2 linked regions of the Homo sapiens genome follow. The protein of the gene in region 2 purifies or fractionates together with the protein of the main gene of each other region. This does not show direct contact. Each region holds a gene or a part of one and is shown on either strand. Other genes may lie near its edges. The genes, in order: NCAM1 and SIGLEC9.

Region 1 (7,158 bases), on a different chromosome or scaffold from region 2:
CAAGTTTAACTGGCAGAAGACTGCAAAATTATCAAGTAAACATGTGACTTAACCATTCCAGATCGTTCAAGCGAACAATTCTTCAAAACATCCAAAATTTATACTAGAATAAACTCAAATTTACTATGCAATTGCACAACCTTTCATTGTATTTCTAAAGAGCAGAGGACACAGAAAGAGGAGAGGGGCAGCCCATCGGACTCACTTGACGTATTAAGGTTAGCTTGCCTTATATGTAAATTTTCATATGCACCCAGCCGAGCACACAAACTCAGTTACCACTGCCCTGGACATGCTACATTTGAGTCCAAAAAAAAAACAAAAAAAAAAAAAACAAAAAAAAAACCTCAGATATATATACATATGTATATATACTTGTTGTTATGTTTTCATTTTCATTCTAACCCTTTGACTTGAATTCTTTGATTTTTTTAAAAAAAAACTATGGTACAAAAGACATTTTAATGGGAAATTATTTCTCTTTGGAAAACCATTCAACTTCTTTCTTTTGTTAAGCAACCTTGTATGTGTTTCACGTTCTGCCTTCTTCCCATCCTCAAGGTACCGGGCCAGGAAAGAGGTCGCTTTCATTCCAGGGAACACTGGTTAGAATGCCTCCCCTGCCTGGGCATCCAGGAACATCCCAGTGGGAATTCCTGGGCCTGCAACTTCCACGGGATCCAAATACTGATGACTGTACCCATCACGATGATGGAAAGGACCGCCAGGCGATCCCCCAAAAGGCCCACCAAATATCCGGGCTCCATTGTCACGCTCCCACCCGGGGGCGAGGATGTCTCAAAAACACCCCCCTTCCCCCGCCCCATGTGGACAGGTCGCGTCGCGGCACCCACGGGCACCGCGGAAAGGGGCATAACCGGGGTGGCCCCCGCCCAGGTGGCAGCGGAGACCCAGGGCCAGGCGGACTAGGCTTGGTCCCCACCCCTCCTCTCCGGGCCCTGCCACGGCCCCGCCCCGCCGTCAGTAGAGCCCCCGGCCCGCGGTCGGCCGGTCAGCGCACGCGCGTAGGTGTGCCTGCCAGGATGCCCTCCCCGGCGACGCGCTCAGGCCCGGATTCCGCGGCGCGAGAGTGAGCGCTGGCGGGGGCGGTGGGATGCTCCAAGTCGGCGTGAAAGAGGCGAGAGTGGGCGAGCACGGGCGGCCGGACCAGGAGCACTCCCGGTGACCACCTAGTCTCCATTTTATTTCCTCGGAAACTGCCGGGCAGGCGGGGGACCGGCCGCAGGGCGGGGTTTCTCTTGGCGGTGAGTGAGCGAGACCGTTAGGCTGAAGCACCGGGAGACTGTCCTGGCAGCTCCTGGCCGCCACCCGCGCCGCAATAAAAGCCTCTCGCGGCTTCCCGCCCAGCCAGCTTCGCACTGATTGGTCGCCGTGGGAGGGACCCGAGTTGGCTGGAGGCGGCGGCCGAGCGCTGCTCTTGTGCCGCCCGCGGAGGGGGCGCACTGGGTGCTCCCTGGCCCGCCCCGTGCGCTCCCCAACCGGGGGTCGGCCGTCCAGGGCAGGTACAACGGTACCTGGAGCTGCGACCGCGACACACAGCCCCTCCGCCCGGCTTTCCTCGATCGCTTCCCAGCACACGCCCCCCGCCCAGAATGTCCGCCCAACCCACCCAGCTCTCTGCGGCCCCTGCTTTTCTTCCTTCCCTCCCGTCCATCAGAGCCAAAGCGCAAATCCTTGGGTGGAGGTGGGGGGATGACAGCTGGAGGGGAGGGTGGGCACGCACAGAAGAATTTTCCAGGGAGGCCGGGATGGAAATAGCCAAAATGAAATGCACCTCCCTGCACACTGCCGAGGTTCTCTGGGCGGCGGCGCAACCCCCGCCACCCGCGGCAGCATCACTACTGTCTTCCTCCCAGCTCCCTATTGTTCACACTTTGCCAGGATCGGGAACCTCGCCCAAAGAAAGGAGACAGGGCGAGGTGTTTCGGGCGGCTACCTGCCATTCTTCTCCCGCCCCGTGCAACACTGGGCACGCGGCGCGTGTAAAGACACACGCGCGCACACGCGCGCGCACACACCAGGCAGCCCCAATCACGCCCTCCTCGCCCTCCGCCCCTCCGCACTTCCTCCTGTCAAAACGCGGCGCTCGACCCTCCCATCCTTCAGTGCTCGCGGCCGAGGGTAGGCTTTGCAACTAACCAGCAATTTGGCAAATGAAAAACTAACGTCATGTCGACTGGGGTGCAACAACGGTCACACCAACAACAACGGCCGTGCGATTCTGCCCATTTTGCCCCATTTTGCAAACCGTTATTCTTCTGGGGCGGGGGAAGCAAAGCAGCGATCCTGACTTTATTAGACCCAGGAATATAACGATCTGGGGCGGCTGCCCTAGCCTTATTGTTCACTCTTCCCGGAGCCGGGGCTGACAAGCCACTTCCCCCTCGGAATCCGAGCCCGTGCGGCGGCACCACCCGAGCCGCGACCTCCCCCGCCCCGCCGCCCGCCTTTGGGGAAGGAGCGCTGCCCATCACCAGCGCGGCCGCTGAGTCCCCAGGAGCCGGCCGGCTCTGCTCCCACCGCCGCGGGCGCACAAAGTGGGAAGGGCGGACGCGCCGGAGGGGCGCCGGGCGCTGGCGGCTCGGGGAGGCAGCCCCGTGCAGCGCAGCCCTGGAGGGAGCGGGGTTCGGCTGGGCAGCAAGGGCGACGCGCTCCTTTCACAGCTAAACGAAAATGACCAGCCTTAGCAGTCCACGTAAAACCACCCAAAATAATAGCGTTCCTCCTAGGAGTAGGAGGAAGGGGTAATTAGCAAACCAGATTGAGAATTAAAAAAAAAAAAAATGTACCTGCAGTTCCCAGGAAAAACAAAGTCCAGATGAGATCCTTAGTTTGCAGCATTGTAATCTGCTGGCTGGGAGGGATGTTCTTGCCGCGGTAAATTCTGTGCCCCCCCCCCTGCAGCGAGTGTGGACGGCGGCTGAGCGACAGACCTAGGGGCAGACAATTGCCAGGCTGAGTATGATTATTTTTGCAGAATTGTTTCCTGCCAGCGGCAGCCGAGCTGCGTTCACGCGCTGATCGGAGAATGAGTGACAGTCCCAGCCTCAGCACACTCGCAACTCGGAGATCCTTGCGCTGGCCCGGGTTCGTTTTGATGGAACTGGGATGGGAGCGAGGAGCGGGGGGCGGGGGTGAGAACCTCACTGTGTCCTTCCACCACGCCGGCCACAAATAGTGCCGAACATCAAGGAGGTAAGAGAGACAGGGGAGGCAGATGCGGAAGCCTGCAAAACGCGGCCTGGAGCTTTTGGGGGAGCCGGGCTCTTTCACACGCAGTCTCCCTGGGAGAGCTGGGATTTCTTTTCACACTTCTACCCTACGCCTTCGCAGGCGCTCCTGCTACCCAGCCTTCCTTAATCAGCAGTTTGCATATTTTGATAACTAGTAAATAATAAAAGCAAAATTTTAGATTTGGTTAGGTAAAGTTGTCAAATCCCTCCATTTCGATTCTAAGATCCTTGCAACACAAGGATAGCCCAGGACTTTAAGTGCGGGAAATTAGAACTTTGGAGAGGGATGGGGGTTGCCGTTGCTGGGTGTTGTTTGGATATTGTTTGTTTGTTTGTTTTATCCTAACTGTGAAGTTTGCTCTCCCACAGAGAGACATACAACACCCTTCAGCAGATCCCCTGGGAAGGAGGTGGGAAGAGACTTAAGTTAGAAGAAAACTCCGATGTTTGGAAGAGATTTCCAGAAATAACCCGAAGAAAATGTTTTCCTGTTTATAAATTCTGAAATCTGTGGTCTCTTTATTAAAATAGCCAGGCTTTTATATAGGTATTATGATATAGAAGCGTCATTAAATAATATTTTCTTACATGGGGACGTGACCTTAATTCTTAAAGATATTAATGTATAATATTACTGAGGTACCAACACAATAGGCTTTAATTAAAATTCCACCCGTGTTTTCAAAAGTAGGGGGTGGAGAAAGCGGGGTGAAAAGAATCATGTCTCAGCACCTGAAGGCTTGGGTATGTAAGGAACTAATGTGAGAAAGGTGTTCTAGATGTCAGGTTAACCCATTAGCCTAGAACACTGAAACCCTCTAACAGAGGAAGTCTGCATAAGTTCAAAGGCATTAAAGCACTAATGTTACCGGGTACTCCGTTTTTCTTCAAAGGTCGGCCTCCCCACTCCTGTAGCAGGTTTTTTGTTTTGTTTTGTTTTGTTTTGTTTCTGTTTTGTTTTTTTGAGATGGAGCCTCGCTCTGTCGCCCAGGCTGCAGTGCAGTGGCGCCATCTCTGCTCACTGCAACCTCTGCTCCCGGTTCAAGCGATTCTGCTGCCTCAGCCTCCTGAGTAGCTGGGATTACAGGCGCGCGCCACCACGCCCAGCTAATTTTTGTATTTTTAGTAGAGACGGTGTTTCACCATGTTGGTCAGGCCGGTCTCGAACTCCTGACCTCGTGATCTGCCCACCTCAGCCTCCCAAAGTGCTAGGATTACAGCCGTGAGCTACCGCACCCAGCCGCTGTAGCAGTTTTTAAAAGTCCATCCTCTACTGTCAGGACATCCATCCTTATTGGACAGGCCCCATCTCTTCCCCACTTTCCTCCTCTATAATAGACCAAGTGGGCCACACCAGTACAGTGTAATTAGCTTGGACCCCTGAAAAGTATTTCTTCCCCCAAGTAAATCTTCCACAACGTTTACTTTGGGCTATTTCTCTCATTCCAAGTATAAACAATTCAAAAGTACAGAAAAGTAGAAAGAACTAAAAATAACCCCAAATCCCACAGATTCCAGAGATACTCATAGATTTTGTCTTCTGTATGTGCATATGATTTTTATAATTGACATATTATAGTAGCAATTTGAATCCTGCTGATTTTGCCTAACATCAGTATAAGCATTTATTCCTCTGGATCATTAAAAAGCTTTTCTAGATATTTTTATAGCTATGTAATATTTCTTCATATGGATGATTTTGCAATGGTTTCCCCATTTTTGCATATTTATATTGTTTGTGGAGTTTGATAATATAAATAAGGCTTTTTTGAACATCTTTCAACAAATATTTGCGGAGCAACCACTGGGTTTAGCCCTGTGCTAGATGCAGTGAATTATATACGTCTTTTTTTAATGGTTGCTGTATTTAAGTGTCTTTGATTTCAGACTTCTGCTTCTAACATCTAAAATCACCACATTAAATATTACAGATTTATGTAAATGAATGTTATCAGACTCTTTCCTTAAAAAAGAGGTTTTGATGGTGAGGAAAGATAGAGAGAACAGGCAGGGGGTAGAGTGGGGAGAGTGAAGGTTGGGGCCCCCAAAATAAAAATTTTTCCAATTTTGCCCCTAAGAGTGAGAGACACATTCTTCCCTGCAAACCTCCCTCCTTATAGTCCTGTCAGTAGAATTAAAAGACTCCTCACTATTTTTCTCCCCAAATGTCCCTATTTTTAGCTTTTCAATGTAGGCAAGTGTGGAAATCCAATCTCACTTGAGTATGACTGAATTTCTTTTTTTTCCCTCTCTCTCTCCAGCCCCTCCCTACCCCGTGTGGTTGTTGATCTCTGTTGTAATGATTCATTCTAGAATGCTGCCCCAGTCATTCCAGTCCACACTCCCAGTATCACTCCCAAATTCTTTTAACAGGATATGTCACTTGTCTCCAATTCTGTATATCTCCGCTAGTCGGTGCCTACATCTGTGAGCTCTGTTGCGTTTCAATCCCTTCCTGATCCTCATTTTAAAATGGACAAAACTGTGGCCCTCACTGGACCTCTCTCCCCAGAGAGAGGCCCAGGCTGTCAGGCACACATTAATGAGCATCTACAAAGTGAACATCCATGGGATTGAGGCAGAGGAAGGAGACTCCAGACTGTGCTTTAGAGAGAAAGTTCTTTAGAGAGGAAGCAGAGAATGGTCCAAGAAGACAGCCATGGCAAGGAGACAAGCTAGGAGGCCATGATAGCTCTGGATAGGGTGACAGGGACTAATTAAGAAAGCGACAGTGGGAAAGGAGGCAAAAAGGAGCCCAGATTTGCAATTCCAAGATAAGATAAGAACAGGTGGACCTGGGTATGTTGTGAAGATGGAAGTATGAGGCAGAGGAAGAAATCCAAGTTCCTTTCATTCATTCAACAAATATTTATGGATTCTCAACTAAGTGCCTGGCACTGCTCTGGACACTGGGGATGTAGCCGTGGACAAAGTAGAGCCTTTGCCCTCATGGGATTTCCTTCTTATGGGGGAAGACAGAGAATAAATCCTTAAACATTTAGTAGTGTACAGATGGTGATAAGTGCTAAGGAAAGCAATAAGGAGAGATAAGGGGACAGAGAGTCTGGGGCGGAGAGGGATTACCATTTTGTTTAGTGGAGCTATACGGGTGTATGTGATACAGATCTTGAGAAAGTGACAACCGCTAAGGGTCCAGTGTGGGCAATTGAATAGTTGCTGGTAACATTGACAGGGAGCAGAAGAAGAGGGGCAGATTCAGACCAGGTGATAAGCAAAGAAGCAATGATGTCAGCTCTGCACATGCTAAGTCTGAGATGTTTCAGAGACATCCAAGTGGAAATGTGTGGAAGACAGACAGAGAGGGCCCAGAGAACATCAATGTTTAAGGTACAGGCAGAAGGACTTATCAATGAAATACTGAAAAACAGACAGCTAGAAAGAAAATTGAAACATGACAATGTCACAAAACCTAAAGAAGAAAGCTTTGAGGTGGTCAAAAAAGAGGAAGATTTAAAAGAATTTCCTGAATTTGACCATTGGAAAGTCCTTAGTGGCCCCTGGGGGAACAGTATTCATGGAATGGAGGGAAAAGGAGACATCATGGTCCCAGAAATGAAAGGGAGGGGAGGAGAGAGAAGCCAGGGGTGTGGACTACTCTCTCCAGCAGTGTGATGTTGAAGGAGTAGTGGGATAATGGCAGGGAGGCAAGCTTGTGGGAGAAGGAGGCTTAAAAGACAGTTTTCTTTTCTTCTCTTTTAATGTGAGGACTTTATTATCAGGTTATAAAGTAAGTTAAATTGGTGTTAACTCTTGCTCAGCACCACCAAGACCTTATGCACTAGCTTGACTTACACAACTTGAAAAATGAACTTGGAATAGTGCCCTAATTTAGAGCTTCTTTCCTATTGTTATTGACAATGGAGACCCCAGGTTTGATCTTAGG
Region 2 (3,202 bases):
CAGATGATCCTGTGCCCCTTTGGAAACGTTTCTCATTCCCTGGGTTTGGCTTTAGAGGAGGGAGATCATGAGCTGCTGCTTCACTCTCTCCCTCAGCTCAACCCAGAAGTCCAATCCTTGAACTCCATTTTCAAAGACAGAGACAGAAGAAGGCCCAGGAGGAGGGCGTTCTAGGAGGAGGGTCCCCAGTGTGCAAGGACTGAGGTATGAACCAACAGGGCATGTTGCAAATGATTTGGAAAAGACCAGAGGGACCAGTGGGTTAAGTGGTGAAGATGGAGGAGTGGACTGAAGTGGGAGAGTGATGTCACGAAGAGGATGTGATGGGAGGTTCAGGATCCAGGAGCCATGGATGGGCTGTGAGCAGTGCGGAGAGAGCTCAGTGTGTCCTAAAGATTCCCACTGGACTGTGCACAATACGTAGACTGCAGAGAGTAAGGCGGCCTAGCAGTCACAGGGTGGGCAGATGAGGCTGAAGAGGTGGGCAGGATCCAGATGCTACCTAGACCTGATTTGCAGGCTGAGGTTATTTCCTGGAAAGTTGCAGAATCGCTATTTTGCAGGCAAGTGACACAGACATATAAGTACTAGTTGCCACCAGAATCAGGAGAGGTTCCCAGCAGGACCTTTGTGTTCAAAGCACAGCGATCCATCAGTGCTCGGCATACACCTGTGCCAGGAGCTCTAACGGGATGTGACTCCTGGAATGGTGACCACAACCTTGCAAGTAGGGCTTCTCATTCCTGTTTTACAGAGCAGGAAACCAAGGTACAGAGAGGTAGGAATTTGTCTGTCTTTTAGTTAAAAAAATAAAAGGGAGGGCACAGTGTGGATTCAGGTTTGAGATACTTTGACTCTAAAGCCTGTGTGCTTTTCACTCTGCACATAATTCATAGTGTTATCATAGCTCATCACGTTGAGGGCTGTTAATTCTACAAGAATCAGCCTCTGACTTCTCCCTTGCCTGGAGGGGCTGTGATCCCTCAATCAGGGTGAGTCTCTGCAGTTTCTCATCTGTGGATCTTGATCTCCGAGTACTCGGTGTCAGTGGCCTCCTGTCCCCGCGAGTCCCAAGGCTTCACCATCTGGAAGCTGAGGGATGCATACTGGAGCTCTCCTTCCCCCACTGAGGAGCGGGCAGAAGCTGGGGGAGGCTGGTCTGGGGGACTGTCTTCTGCCCAAGGTTCAGTCAGGGGCCCCTGAGACATGGGAGAGAGAAGTGAGTCAGAGCAGACAGTGAGGATGGGGCGCGGTGGCTCACATCTGTAATCCCAGCTCTTCAGGAGGCTGAGGTAGGCGGATCACCTGAGGTCAGGAGTTTGAGACCAGCCTGGCCAACATGGTGAAACCCTGTCTCTACTAAAAATACAAAATTAGCCAGGTGTGGTGGTGTGCACCTTTAATCCCAGCTACTCAGGAGGCTGAGGCAGGAGAATCGCTTGAACCTAGGAGGCAGAGGTTGCAGTAAGCCAAGATTGTGCCACTGCACTACATCCTGGGTGACAGAGCGAGACTCCATCTCAAAAAACAAAAACAAACAAACGAAAAAATGCACTTGAGGCAACAGCCTCACTCACTTCACCCTTGTTCTTGCCCTAGTGGAGAGGTAGGTGCTTAAAAGGTCAGAATGTGGCCGGTCACAGTGGCTCACGCCTGTAATCCCAGCACTTCGGGAAGCCAAGGTGGGCAGATCACAAGGTCAGGAGACTGAGACCATCCTGGCTAACACAGTGAAACCCCGTCTCTACTAAAAATACAAAAAAATTAGCTGGGCGTGGTGGCAGGCGCCTGTAGTCCCAGCTACTCCGGAGGCTGAGGCAGGAGAATGGCTTGAACCCGGAAGGTGGAAGTTGCAGTGAGCAGAGATCGCACCACTGCACTCCAGCCTGGGCGACAGAGCAAGACTCTGTCTCAAAAACAACAACAACAAAAAAAAAAAAAAACAAAAAAAGTCAGAATGTGCACTGCTGCAGGCTATAGAGTTTGGGATTTTTACTCTAGATCAGGGGTTGTCAAACTACAGTATCTGAGTCATATCCAGCCCACTCTTTATGTTTGTGAATAGTTTTATTGGCACACAGCCATATTCATTTGTTTACACAGGGTATATGGCTTCTTTCTTGCTACAACAGCAGATTTGAGGAGCTGCAATGAGACTGTGTGGCCCATGAAGCCGAAAATAGTTTCTATCTGTCCCTGACAGATAGTATTTGCTGGCTTCTGCTCTAAACGGTATTGAGGGGTGGGGGAACAGCTGTTCAAATGCAGAGGAACTGGACGATGATGTCTTCTGGACAGTCCCCCCAGGCAGGAAAGGAGAGGAGACAGGCAGACAGGTGAGGGAACAAAAGACAGAGATCCTCAGGCCTCAGCAATGAAGGGTCAGGATAGGGAGCAGAGACAATAAAAGCTGTTCTTAGGGGAGGAAACCAACCAAACATTGTGATTTGGGGCTACAGAGAAGAAAGGAAGAACAGAGAGGAGGTAACTTTGGCTACGCCCAGCTGATTAGTCCTGGGGGTCATCCTGTGGGAGGTGTCCAGGCTACATGCTGGCTGTGGAGAGTCCACATCACTCACCTGAGAGGCTGAACCCCTGACAGCGTTTGCATCCTCTATGCCCGTATCTCCCACGCCCGCTGCTGGCCTTGCCGATTTCTTCCTGCAGGACCTCACTCTGAGTGAAGAGACCAGAGAGCCTTTCAGTGTGGTCAGATTGGGGTGCGGTGGGCAGACCAGGTACCCCCATGTGTTTCCTATTAAGGGACTGCAGGGGTGACTGAGGTGGGAAAGCAGTGGTCCAGTCTTAGAGACCCCAAGGTTGAGAACAGAGGCTCTCTTCTCCTGGACAGTGGGTACCAAGGTTTGCCACAGACTCAAAGCTCCTCAAACACAGGCCCACATGGAATTCTCACCATGCACCTGTGACCTCCTTCTTGCCCCAAGCTCTTGACCCATCCAGGTCCCTCCAGCTCTGGCTTCAGGGATCCAGCTTCCAGCCTGTCCTCCCCCAGGGCTCTCCCTCCCTCCCTCTCTAGGGTCCATGCTTACACAACGAAGATGACGCAGAAGGACAGGAAGACCAGGGCTGTGGCTCCAGCTCCCCCGACCACCCCCTGAGTCACTCCTGATGTGGCTTTGCCTGTTGACAGATGGGAGTTATTTTTGTGATATATCATAGAGAATTGGGTCTCTTCTCCTCC

The links.
Region 1: the proteins of SIGLEC9 (region 2) and NCAM1 purify together in Homo sapiens (affinity purification with mass spectrometry; 3 studies listed by BioGRID and IntAct, with this or other methods). This does not show direct contact.

What each region holds. Positions count from the first base shown.
Region 1 is NC_000011.10:112,957,317-112,964,474, reverse strand, and holds the start of NCAM1 (neural cell adhesion molecule 1 isoform 2 precursor), read right to left. Parts: upstream 3,056-7,158; 5' UTR 2,863-3,055; coding exon 2,811-2,862; intron 1,266-2,810; exon of another isoform or gene 1,015-1,265; intron 1-1,014.
Region 2 is NC_000019.10:51,127,888-51,131,089, reverse strand, and holds the end of SIGLEC9 (sialic acid-binding Ig-like lectin 9 isoform 2 precursor), read right to left. Parts: intron 3,142-3,202; coding exon 3,051-3,141; intron 2,677-3,050; coding exon 2,580-2,676; intron 2,291-2,579; coding exon of another isoform or gene 2,096-2,290; exon of another isoform or gene 2,049-2,095; intron 1,200-2,048; coding exon 1,011-1,199; 3' UTR 780-1,010; downstream 1-779. UniProt on the Homo sapiens protein: Putative adhesion molecule that mediates sialic-acid dependent binding to cells. Preferentially binds to alpha-2,3- or alpha-2,6-linked sialic acid. The sialic acid recognition site may be masked by cis interactions with sialic acids on the same cell surface.